2 separate regions of the Homo sapiens genome follow, and region 2 is linked to region 1. A link means that fine-mapping ties the variant in region 1 to the expression of a gene that starts in the linked region. Tissue or cell type: whole blood. Region 1 holds a variant in brackets; the other region holds the start of a gene. All regions are shown on one strand. Distances are between the middles of the regions.

Region 1 (2,500 bases):
AAAAAAAAGAAGAAATAAAAATAAAATAAAAGTTCTGTCTTTTCCATATTGATTCCTAATTCCTAGGAGGTTTTTTTTTTTTTTTTTCAGATGGAGTTTCGCTCTTGTTGCCCAGGCTAGAGTGGGATGGCGCAATCTTGGCTCACCGCAACATCTGCCTCCCAGGTTCAAGCAATTCTCCTGCCTCAGCCTCCCAAGTAGCTGGGATTACAGGTGCGCACCACCACACCCAGCTAATTTTGTAGATTCCTAGGAGGTCTGTATATTCTGAATGCTAACCCTTTATCTGTTGTGTATGCTGTCACCATTGCCACCTAGGCTGCTCCTTGTCTCTTAACTTTCTTTGTAATATCATTTTCATAGCAGAGGGCTTTTGGGGGGTAATGTAATAAAAATCGGCTGATCTTTTTTGAGTGTGTCTCTTGTCTAAGAAATGCTTTCCTACCCTTAGGTCTCCTACATTTTCTCCTAATTATTTTAAAGTTTTGTTTTTCACTTTTAGGTCTTTAATCCATCTGGAATTCATATTTATGGATGGTGTGAAGATTTTTCATAGGAAAAGCCAATTGTCACAACACATTTTACTGAAGTCTATTCTTTCTCACTGAGTTGCAGTGCCGCCACTATCATAAATCACATTCCCACATATACTTGGATCTGTTTCTGGGCACTCTATTCTATTGATTCCTTTGTCTAGCCCGGCACCGATACCACATTGTTTTAATTACTATCGCTTTCAAAAAAGTCTTGGTATTTGTTAGGGCCAGGTCTCTTTCCTTATTCTTTTTCAGAACTGTCTACTTTTTTCTTGGGTCTTTGCTCTTCTCTATGAATTTTAGAATCAGTTTGCCTAGCCCTGTGAAAAATCCTGTTGGAATATTTATTGGACCTGCAATGAATCAACAGATTAACGTGGAGAGAATCGTCTTCATAACATGGAGGCATCTCATACTTAACCTAATACTTCTCTATGGCTCTCCATTTATTACTATTGTAGCCTATGTTTTACTTCCTAAATATCTTGCAATGTGTTTTGTAATTTTTTTCTGGGTTTTGTACAATTTTAATTTTATTGTGAATGATTTCTTTTTGAAAGATACTACAATTTCTAATAAACTATTGCTAGTGCGTAGAAACACTGCTGAATTTTATATGGTTTTTTGTATTTGGATGTTGACATTTGTCCAGCATGACTTCACTTAATCACTCTAATAATATGCCCGTAGAATCTCTTGATTTTCCATATAAATAATCATGCTGTCTACAGATGTCAGAGACTTTTGCCTCTTATTTTCCTAACCCTTCTTTTTTAAA[T/C]TTTTTTTTTTGAGACGGAGTCTCGCTCTGTCACCCAGGCTGGAGTGCAATGGCGTGATCTCAACTCACTGCAACCTCTGCCTCCCGGGTTCAAGAGATTCTCCTGCCTCAGCCTCCTGATTAGCTGGGATTACAGGTGCCCACCACGACGCCCAGCTAATTATTTTTAGTAGAGATGGGGTTTCACCATGTTGGCCAGGCTGGTCTGGAACTCCTGATCTCGTGATCTACCCACCTCGGCCTCCCAAAGTGCTGGGATTACAGGTGTGAGCCCCCGTGCCTGGTCTTATTTTCCTAATCCTTCTATCAGTGAATGGTGGCTTCTAAATCTGACCTTTTCCAGCTCTTGGGCTGTGCCTGTGGGCTGGCCCTGGGCAGCTATTACCTTGCACTGTCAGTTATAAATAAATAAAACACCCTTACTTTCTCCAGAGCTTTACAGTTTGCAAAGCGCTTTCGCTTCCATTATCTCATTGATCCTTCTTACCCCCACTTGATGGAATGGGAGTGTCTGGGTGGAAACGGTCCAGGGCTCCGTGTCCAGAGATCCAGCTGTGCAGCCATAGTGCCGAGGCACCTCGGACAGTCCCTCCTCTTCTCTCTTACTCCTGTAATCTAACGTTTGGCCGGGAATGGTCCCTGGCATTCCAACTCATGTGTGATGGATTTGGGCGGTCAGAGGCTCACGGAACGCTTTGAGGGCTGAAATCCACCGATAAAAAGGCGGGGGATTCTGGGTACATTTAGGTCTCCAGGCTGGTATCCCAAAATGTCTGGGGGGATATGGAAATGTCCTTGGAAGTCGGAGGCTTGATACAGATGGTGGGATGGGTGGAGGTGGGATGGGGAAGAGATCATTATGTCCAGCCCCCTGCCTCCGTGCGGCTTCTCCTCCCCCTGTAGATTAGAGCGTTTTCTGGGTCGGGAAGGGGAGGACGAGATGGAGCTCGTGGCCTTGGGTTCCCTCCTGCGTCGCCCCCTGTAACTGCGTCCCCCAGCACGCACTGCTGACGCGCATCCCCAGCCCGGGGCGGCGCGCTCCGCAGGCATCCCGCCCCCGACTCCCGCTCCGTCCCAACATCGCGCAGGCGCAAGACCGGGCTGGCGCCAGCGAACGCGCCCTCTCGTGGCGGACTGGCCAGGTCGCAGTCTTTGTTGTTGCGCTGGAGGCGGCGTACGGGACAGG
Region 2 (2,500 bases), 30 kb before region 1:
GCGGAGAGTCCACAGGGCTGCTGAGAAGAAAGAGATCACACCGAGAGTGGGGCCACGGGAACTGGCACTGGGAACAAGGGCTTCCGCCGCTCTAAGTGACGCCCGAGGGTGGGAGAGAAGGGAGAAGCCCTTCGGGCAGGCGATAGGAAAGGGCCCCTGAAGAGGAGAAAGCGACAGAGAGAAGTGCAACTGGGAGAGGCCGGGAAGAGGTGGATGGGAAAGGAGACTAGCGGTCGGGGAGGCAGTTGTGGAGCCAGAGAGGTGGTCCCCCCTTCCCATATCGCCGGCCGTCCACTGGCCCCAGGCTTGGGGTAGTCCTCAGGAGTCGGGCACCCCCTCAAAGCACTGTTGGAGATGGGGTGAGGTTGGGGACAGGGCACCTACTCCACTCTCAGAGCCCTTCTCCCCAGTCAGAGCCCGGTGGCTAGTTTCTCTCCAAACCATCAGCACAACTCCCCGCCGGGCAAGAAAGAGTTAAGCCCTCTCCCCCTCCCCCCACACCAGCTTTTTATTAATTTCTCCGGGCGTCGGGCGGGAGGGAGGGGATTAGGGCCATAAATCCTATCTCCGCCCCCTCCCCTGACAGCCCGGCACCCCAGCCCCGTGCGGTCCCCCTAGGGATAGGGGAAGAAAGGCCCTTGTCGCTTAGCCCTGCCCAACCCCACTCAGGGTCCCACCGCGGGCCCGAGTGGCCCTAGCCCCAGTTCCCGGTCCACCCCAGGGCGCCCGGCCCCTCACCTCCGGCATCGGTCATCTTCAGCGTCTGGCGCCCCGGGAACCCCTCAGGCCCATGGTGCTCGAGGCGGGGGCCGGGCAGGAGAGGGGTGGGGGGACCGTCACCCCGGCCGCGGGGGGCTCCGGGCGGGCTCGAGCCGCTCCATCCCGGGGGTGGGGGTGAGGTCGGCGGGAAGGGTCCCAGAGCCGGGGGAGATGGAGGGCGGGGGATGTGGGGAGAGGGAACAGGTTCGCTGGAAGCAGGAGGCGCGGGCGGGGCTGGACCAGGAGACCTGACGGGAGGATGCTCCGTGTGTGTGTGCGTGTGCGTGTGCGTGTGTGTGTGTGTGACAGAGAGAGAGAGAGAGAGAAGAGCGAAGAGCGAGCGCCACCTCCCTCCCCGCCCCTGCCGCCCGCCAGGCCTGGCCGGACGCGGGGCCCCCGCCTGGCAGGGCCGATTCGCGCGGCGTCGCGTCGGCAGGGGTCCGCGGGGGTCTCCGGGGAAGGGGCGTCGGGGTGGGGGGCGCGTGGCGGAGAAGCCGGGCGCCCAGGAGACAAAGAGCGGGAGGGAGCGAGGGGGCGGGGGCGGGGGAGGGCGGCGGGGAGGAGGCGGCTGGGGCCGGGGAGCGGAGTTGCAGCTACTTCTCTGCCCGCGGGAGACGCGGCGCACCGGAGTCTGCGCGGGTGGGAGCGGCTCCGGGGCGGTCCCGCCACGGGACCCACGGGGCTTCCGCCTCCTCTGCCGGGTCCATCAGGGCTCCCGATTAGTTCATTCATTCAACAAACGTCCGCCGAGCAGCCGGGGCGCCGAGGCTGGAGGGGACAGCGGTGAACAGAACCCCCGCCCCCTAACTGCGCTCAAGGCCAGTGGGCCAGTCGGGGGCTCAGACGAGTGGGGAGGCCCTCACGAGCCTGGGCGCCATGGGCCCAGCTAACAGAGGGCACTTCTTGCCGGAAGGGAGAGCGCACCCCTGGCCCGGCCTGGGTCCAGGCGGCCGCGGCGGGAGCTGGGCTGGGGGATTCCCAGAGGATGTGATGTGTTGGCTACAACTGCGGGCCAGGGTAGGGAAGTGCCAGGGGGTGTTGGGGGTGGGAGGGCAAGAGGGGAAGATAAATTGAAGCTGGGGAGGTGCAGGGGGCTTGCACTTTATTCTACCAGCCGCCCACCCCGCCGCCCACACACACACACACACACACACACACACGCGCGCGCGCGCACACACACAAAATTAAGAGGAGGGAGGGGCTCAGGTGTGCATTTAGGAAGCACCCTTGGCTCCCCTGGAGACAGGGTTACAGAGGGCACTCTGAAGGCAGGGAGACCCGCTGGAGGCTATTGAGGGCCGGTGGCAGTGGGCATAAAGATTACAGATTAAGCTGAGAGCCCTTCAGGATGCAGGCCTGAAGAAGCTGACACCGAAGAAGCTGACAGGATTTGGGGACCTGCTGGACTAGGAGGTGAGGGAGGAGGGGTCTAGGATGGCTGTGGACCTTGGCTTGAGGCAGGAAGCCCTGGAGCAGGTGGGGGTGGGGACGGATGAGATCAGACTTGGACCCAGTGCGCTGATGGTAGTGGCAGGCCAGCCAGGGAGGCAATGTAGGGATCCACAACCAGCTACCGCACGTCACAGCTTGGCAGGTGCCAGGCGCTCTCAGATCATCTATTGTCACCCTCACAATAAACCCACAAGGTGGGTGTTTCCATTACCCACTGCCTCAGAGAAAACAGAGACTTAGAAGAAGGAAAGTGCTTTGCTCAAGAGCAAGTGGTGAAAGGCCAGGCGCA

Evidence for each region. PIP is the estimated chance that this variant, and not a neighbour inherited with it, causes the effect.
Region 2: SAMD14 starts here. The variant in region 1 is the best candidate, but not a certain one, in a credible set for the expression of SAMD14 in whole blood (INTERVAL, PIP 0.72).

The regions. Positions count from the first base shown.
Region 1 is chr17:50,159,220-50,161,719 of GRCh38, forward strand. LOC124904025 (a long non-coding RNA gene) reads left to right here. Exons shown (of 3, transcript XR_007065841.1): 2 at 91-213; 3 at 503-1,138. LOC105371818 (a long non-coding RNA gene) reads right to left here. Exons shown (of 4, transcript XR_934833.3): 3 at 1,802-1,929. Among named protein-coding and RNA genes, the nearest start is that of SGCA, 5.5 kb to the right of the region's middle. RefSeq lists silencers at 2,164-2,243, 2,274-2,500 and an enhancer at 2,269-2,500. The variant T/C (reference allele first, on the strand shown) is at 1,315.
Region 2 is chr17:50,128,779-50,131,278 of GRCh38, forward strand. SAMD14 (sterile alpha motif domain containing 14) reads right to left here and starts at 1,382. Exons shown (of 10, transcript NM_001257359.2): 1 at 739-1,382. RefSeq lists silencers at 1,098-1,157, 1,398-1,477.